Linked DNA regions of Homo sapiens. Each later gene encodes a partner of the first gene's protein in a complex. Each region holds a gene or a part of one and is shown on either strand. Other genes may lie near its edges.

The links. The genes of interacting proteins can lie anywhere in the genome.
Region 2: HBS1L (region 1) and PELO share a complex: the UniProt entries of both Homo sapiens proteins name them as parts of the pelota-HBS1L complex.

What each region holds. Positions count from the first base shown.
Region 1 is NC_000006.12:135,052,954-135,056,702, reverse strand, and holds the start of HBS1L (HBS1-like protein), read left to right. Parts: upstream 1-1,880; 5' UTR 1,881-2,011; coding exon 2,012-2,054; intron 2,055-3,749. UniProt on the Homo sapiens protein: GTPase component of the Pelota-HBS1L complex, a complex that recognizes stalled ribosomes and triggers the No-Go Decay (NGD) pathway.
Region 2 is NC_000005.10:52,797,772-52,801,520, reverse strand, and holds part of PELO (protein pelota homolog), read right to left. Parts: intron 1,717-3,749; exon of another isoform or gene 1,637-1,716; 5' UTR 1,127-1,636; coding exon 401-1,126; intron 113-400; coding exon 1-112. UniProt on the Homo sapiens protein: Component of the Pelota-HBS1L complex, a complex that recognizes stalled ribosomes and triggers the No-Go Decay (NGD) pathway.

The sequences.
Region 1 (3,749 bases):
CAGTGGAGTGGAAGCTGCCATTTGTATTTTAATAACACAATTTTTTTGGGGGGGTGCAGAGTCTCACTCTGTCTCCAGGCTGGAGTGCAGTGGCACAATCTTAGCTCACTGCAACCTCTGCCTCCCGGGTTCAAGCGATTCTCCTGCCTCAGCCTCCCGAGTAGCTAGGACTATAGGCACGCGCCACCATGCCTAGCTAATTTTTGTATTTTTAGTAGACAGGGAGTTTCACCATGTTGGCCAGAATGGTCTTGATCTCTTGACCTCATGATCCGCCTGCTTCAGCCTCCCAAAGTGTTGGGATCACAGGAGTCAGCCACCGCGCCCGGCCAATAACACAATATTTTTAAGCACCTACTATGATCTGTGATAAATCCTCTTATACGGATACATTATTCACAGCTCGCGAGTTAGTGTCTCTATCTCCTTTTTACAAAGAAACAGGCTGCAAAATAAAAATTACCTAAGGGTGTAAAATAATAAAAACACTTAAGCCATGTAACATTAGCAACTATCTCTATTTTTCTGTAAACTTTTATTTTGGAGCCACATTAAACAACTATTTTTGTAGTCAAACACATTCAAATGCATGAATAAATTACGTTCCAAGCCACTTACAAATATAAACTAAATTTGGATTACTCTTATTTCTTTCTATTGTGCATAGCAAAAAGCTGAGGAAGCTTTTAATTATCTCTAGAACTCAACATTTGCCTTTGATGTGAAGTATCATCATTTCAAAAACACAAGCTAAAACTGAAGTGGTGTTCAGTATAATGAGGTTGGTTTCTTATATAGCATTATTAACTTTATGTTCTGAGAAATGAGGACATTTAATAGCAGGTTATAGATTCATGCATCAACAACATTCAGCATTACCACCTAAGGCCAGTGCTATGTCTAAAAAGCTATATTTAATACTCGCAATGTTACACACAATTATGTCTTCAATGAATGTTCAGTGAATCCTTCTTTATGATGCTGATAAATATCGTCTATATAGCTAAAATCGTTTACATAGCTAAGGGCAAATCGCTGTTTACTAGGGATAGTAATGCCGAACGGAGTGAATACATGAAGTCGTAAATTATATGAATGCAGGGTGACCTAATATAGCCAGGGTCTCAATTTAATAATATATACCCGTTTAAAAATAGCCTTATTTCCTTCTCTAAAGCTTGGACTCTTTTTTTTTTTGAGATAAGGTCTCACTCACTTTGTCGCCCGGGCTGGAATGGAGAGGCCCGATCTCAGCTCACTGCAGCCTCGACCGCCTGGGCTCAGGGGATCCTCCCACCTCAGCCTCTTCAGTAGCTGGGACTACAGGTCTGCACCACAGGGCCGGCTAGTGTTTGTATTTTTTGTAGAGACGGAGCCTCGCTATGTTGCTCAGGCTGGTCTCGAACACCTGAGTTCAAGCGATCCGCCCTCCTAGGCTTCCCAAAGTGCTGGGATTACAGGAAGGAGCCACCGCACCGGCCTGGGCTAAATCTGATTCCAAGTTTACACAAGTTTGTTGAATGCCCACTGTGTGCTTAATGAAAGATCAAAGTTTGATAAAACAAGGTCCCTGCTCTTACTGAGCGCATAGCTTTCTCAGATTATCAGGAACCAAATTTGGAAAATAATCCAGAACGCTGGCGTAGGTAGCTCAAGGTTCCCCGCTTGCAACATTTAGTCCAAACCAGTCAATTCTAGGCGGCGGATTTCCCCATCCCCCTCCGTCGCCCAACCTTTGGGTGGGGCCACTCCCAAACGCTCCCTCCCCTCGTCCCGCCATGCACAGCAGTGCGCATGCGCCCTCAGGGAGGCGGACAGTGACCCTGAGGCATTGCCGTCGCGCGGTGCACAGCTAAGACGTCGCGCTTGCGCAGGCGCTCGGCGCAGAGGCCTGCGGGAAGCCAAGATGGCGCATAGGGGTTCTCCAGGCTGCAGTTGGCGCCTTATCAGTATCTAAGCGGAGTGTTTTGGAAGGAGTTAAGGGGCTGTGGCAAACGCCCTCTCCGCCGTCATGGCCCGGCATCGGAATGTTCGAGGCTATAACTACGATGAAGGTAGGTGGCAGGGTCATGCCGGGACGTTCTTTTCCCGGCTACAGCTGGGATCCTAGCCCGTTGGCATCCACTTCAATCTGTGAGTTTCTCGTCAGTGTTGCCCTGTCGGGATTGGGAGAGCCCCAGTTGGGGAATATAACAGGCCTTCTAGTGCTTTCAAATGCCGTCGTTTTTAAGTCATGATTTCTGCCCTCTGGGGTTGATTTTATTTGGGGAGGGGGAGGTGCTGCATAGCGTCATATGGGTAGGATATTGGTGAGGTTGAGATCCGGTGATATTTAGGCACGTAAGCATTATCACCTCTTCCATTGTTTCCTCCCATGTTGGGCACTAACGTGCCTGCTTCTAGCTCCTCTCTCCCAGATCCCCTTTGAGAAATGTCCATGAAACGTTGCTTATTTGTAAAACACAGATTGACTTAATACATTCAACGGACGTGTACCTGTGTTAGATTTACATGGTAAACCTTTTGTGTATGTCCATACATACCTAGTGCAGAATCAGTTTGCGCTAATTTATTTTTCAACGAATTTCAAAGTGGAAACTTAGGAGACGGTAGAAAAGACACATGTTAAAAAGGCCCAAAGAATGAGTCGATCAGATGGATCTTGAAGTTTATACTTAGTTCTTGGCTGGTAATGCTTGATATAAATGTATTTTGAAATGTAAATAAACGGCAGTACTAGAGGAAAGAGTGTATAGGAAAGGACTTTTTGATATTAAAAAATGAAATAAAAATGTCTGTATGAATGTTCTGTAGGAGTTAACAGGAGTTAGAATTATTTTTAGGAGGAGCACATCCCTCTTCATGCAGTAGATAACTATAGGCATCACCAAGCATCACATAAACTAAAAATATAAACAAAAATGAACTAATGCAGGAGAAGAATAAAGAACTATGCTTTACGAAGTGCAGAACATGTAGTGCTTAATATGTTGGTGATTGTCATTGGCACCCCAGTAGATTATTATAGAACATCAGTATGCTTTAACTAGAGTGAGGGCAGCTAACACCCTGTTCTCCATTTGGAACCTGTGACCTCAGTCCGTCTAGAACATGTGAATTTTCTGGTGGTTACTTTAGAATGGAGGCCCTTTTAAATAAATATTGCAGTGGATGGTATTGCATGTGGACCATTGTCACCTAAGAAATGACTTTAGATTGAGAGAGATTTTTGCAAATATAAAGTACATGAATAGGCCTATTTATTATTCATTCATTTCTTTAATAGTTGTTTATCATTTCCTCAACCACCATTAAGTTAGTGCTTAGAGTACTGTTCTAAGCTTTGAGGACTGAAAGTAAGATATTTGAGGGTGGTCTAAAAGGAGAAGATTATACGAGTTACAGATTATTAGAGTATGAAAAATGCTACAAAAGGTACTGAGAAAACGCTATGGGAGGGATACACAGATGAGAACACTTAATTCAGAATGGATTGGGGGGAATTTAAGCAGGATTTCTACGTTAAGGAATGCTTCATGGAGGAGAGGTGGTTGGCCTCAGGGAGCACCTTGGCTTCTTGAGGTTAGGTTGTCATGTTGTCATGCTTCTTTGAAACAATTGGTGACATCATAACCAAGCTGTTCCTGTAACATTAAGGAGGTTCATCCCCTTTTCTTGTTTATAAAAGTTGTACTCATTAAGGTCCAGTTTATTTCTCTTCTTCCCAGTTAGGCTTTCTCTTGAATTCT
Region 2 (3,749 bases), on another chromosome or scaffold:
CATCCAAGGCTTTGACTTCCCCAGCAGCTTTAGTGTCTGAAAGGCGGCTAGCCACAGTAGGGTCACAAAGGGCCTCTTTCAGGGAGTACTTGTGTCCGGAGGAGGCATGTACCTAGAATCACAATTACAAAAGTTAGGCAAAATAATCTCCTAGAACACCCATTAATCAGCTCACAAAGGCTTAAAGCCAAAAGCGCTAGTAAGGCTTCATATGTTTCAGCGAAGTTTACTCCATAAATTTGCTAGACATTTAACATTCTCTTTTTATTTCATTATCTCATGAAAATCCCAGCTAAGTAAAGACTTTCTCTTCTTATTTTTCCCAGTTCTAAAACTTTAGGAGTAGTTTATACCAATCCCTCTGCCCATTCTTAATTATCCCTGGGTAAGATTGTTTTACCTGAAGAAATTTGGACCGGTTTTCCAGGAGCAGTTTGTTGTCGGTCTTCACTGCTTGTTGAAACAGGTAGTCGCAGAACTGCTCCCTCACAAATCCTGGGCTGGCCACCAGGATGCACTTTACAACATCAAAGTGTATGTGGCGCTGGATAGCCTGGACCACCTGTTCATAGAACCGCTCCAAGGCCCGGTCATGCTGAGAGCAATTGCCTTTCCTTTTCCTAGGGATGTTCACCTCCACCTTGGCCCGAGTGAGGGTCATGCTGGGAGTGACTAAGCAGATATGGGCGAGGCCTTCCTGCATGACCACAGCCGCCACATCAGCGCTCCAGGCTGGGTCACAGGCCTGCTCGATGCGCTCCAGTACCACACTATCCCACTGCTTCTTGGCCAGGGTGAACTGGCGGTTGGGCTCCAGCTCGATGGTGTGGTAAGCCCCCATCTTGACATACTCATTCTCTTGGATGTTGGTCCCCTTAACCCGCAGCTGGCAGGCTTGAGAGTCGAAGTCGATGGCCTCCACGCAGAGAGTGAGGGTAGTGCGGACCCGGTTGCTGCCCACGCTGCCCGTGGAGGACTCTGTCTGTACCTTGCGGATGGTGGAGGCGCGCAGGCTGTCGCCCACCTGCACGAGGTTGTAAGTGTGCCACATGTCCTCAGGCTCCTCGGGGACCAGGGTCACCTGGCCCGCATTGTCCTTCTCGATGTTCTTCCTCACGAGCTTCATGGCCAAGGAAGGGGCTCACTGACAGAACCAAAGGAACCAAGGAGGTCCTCACCTCCGCCCCGGGAGAGGGGATGGGAATGCAGGCCAGGAAGGGGGCGGGGCCCGGTTTCTAAGGGCACTTGCCTGGCGGGAAGGAAACACGCTTGCTTCGACTCATGCAGCCTAGGGCAGCACTTCCTCTATCCTTTCCTCTCTCAGTCTCCCGGCGCGCTGCGTCTAACAGGCTCGGGGAACACTGCAGCGAAAATCTACCCCTACACAGTTCCCGCTGGCAGCACGCAACAGCGGGCTGACGAAATGAAGGCGCATGCGCAGCCCCCGTCCCGCGACCCGACGCACGTCTCCCGTCCCCAAAGGAGAGGCGGGGCCGCAGTTCGCGCGTGCGCAGGCGCACTAAGCTGTGAGGCGCTCCGGACGAATGAACTCCCTCAAGAAGGTGCACAGAGTGGTGGCGAGTCCTTTATTTTAATGCCAAACTTCAACTTCCTAAGTTTTCTCTTCCATCCCTGTCTGTGAAGAATCCGGGGAGTGTGTGAGTGCAAATACTAGTTTTACCTGCCTGCGGCTGCCACTGCAACGCTTCCCTCTGGGTAAATCCAATTTCAAAGCTTAGCAGTAAAAGTAGCTCTCAGAAGTGCAGATTTGGCCCCAACGGCCCAAACTATGCTCGTTTTTGCTCTTGCCTTATCCGCACTCGGACGCTACAAGCCTGTTGGAGCTGGTATTTAGAAGCGGTTTCTGAGAACTACTGGTCACGTTCTGTCTGGGCTCCCAGCAACGTGTCCAGCTGTTTTCTGCGCCTAGTTACCGTGTCTGCACGATCTGATTCACCCAGATGTTAAAGCGCTGGTCCCAAGAGAGAAGAAACTATGTGTGGAATTTACCCCTGGGTGGACCTCTCAGTTGCTTGACCTGATGTCCTGGGAATCCTAGGCTCCAAAGTTGGCAGCCTCAGCTTTCCGCAGCCCAGTAGCCTGTGAAATGTTTAGGTTGGGGGTTGGGTCGCAAGAGCTTAGGGCCAGATCTTCACTGCCAAAGCTAAGCTAAAAGCCGAGGCTATGGGAAGTGGGGAAAAACTATTAACTAGGACTGACCCTGATTGAATAGCTACATAATTTAAAGAAAATCCTTAAGTTACTTAGCATTCTTTATTAGGAAGTGGAAATGGAGAAGTGGGATTGCCTCTTTAAGAGACCGATGAATAGAAAAAACAAAAGAATCTAAAAGTTTCTTGAGAGCTTAGATGGAGTGGAGGGCAGAGAAGTCCTGCACACATAGCTTCTCACTGTCTTTTCTGTCTTTCTCTGTGTGGATTGGAAAGGGGAACTAACCAGCCTGAACAGATGAAACAGGGATGAAAGGAAGGAATCTGAGTTTGGCATAGGCGTGTGGAAGGAAAATAAATCTCGGATCCCCAAACTCATTAAGCCAAAGGGAAAAGTTAAGCTGGGAACTGGGTCACGCAAAACTGCCTTGCCTCTTGGTTTTTAAATGAGATGGCTACCAGATGAAAAGCTACACACCTCGCTCATATTTTGCCCACAAGGAAATTCTCAGTGAGCGCCAAGATCTTTACCATAAAGTGTTTCTATGAAAATTTACCATGGCAATGTAAATAGATAGCTTCTGTTTTCAGGTACAGTCACCCCTCTGCCCTCCTGACACAAATGCATATCTGATTGTTCCCCTGCCCCATTTGTCTATGTTATCTTACGTAAAAATGCAGATTCAGATTGACTAAGCCAGACAGAGGCATGAATGACTATTTTCCCCCTGCTACCCTCTCACATGAAAACTGTATTTCTCAGTATCCCACCCTTTCCCCTTTAAATTTGGAGCCCTCAAAATCATCTTCCCAGAAAGGCATAGACCTGTCTTCCCCGCGCACGTCCTTAATTTTGGCAAATAAACGTCCTAAAATGATTGAGACTTGTCTCAACATTTTTCTCAACTGACAGGCTTCACAATTTAAACTTAAGTGTCATTATCTTCCTAAGAGATTATCAGGGGACGGAAAGGTCCCCTCCAAGGGGAAAGTCCAAATAAGAACCACTACTTATTAATATTTGTGGCCTCTTTTCTCTTTGTTTCTCGCTCTCTATGTCTCCCCTTACTTCCTCCTTCTTCCCACCTTCCTATCATACTGAGTACCCTCAAGAAGTTCCTAATTCACATTGCCTTCTTCCAATTCCAGGAGAACCCAGCAACTTTTCACTAAGCAAAGAACTAATCACACTCAAGTGTGAAGGTGATTTGCCTATCCAAAGGACACTGTATTTTAAAAAAAGTATCTTGTTAACTTAAAATTCCTAATTGGTAGGGTGAAAGTGTGCTTGTGTGTGTATTTGTGAGAGAGAAAGAGAGAGAGAATGAGGAGATAATTTTGAACTGGGGCTTTGAAGTGCTCCTTGATCATCTTTCTAAGTACAATTTATCTTTCCCATAGTCTGCCAAAGATTAAAAGCCACAGAATCACAGTGGTAAGCACACAGTGGGATCTTAACAAAAGGTTTTTATTGAAGAGCTATCACGTATTGAATGTTTATCAAGTTCTTTCCTATGCTCTAATTCTCCCCTGTAAGGTAAATATTTGTTATCCTAATTTTATAGAAGAAAATCAACT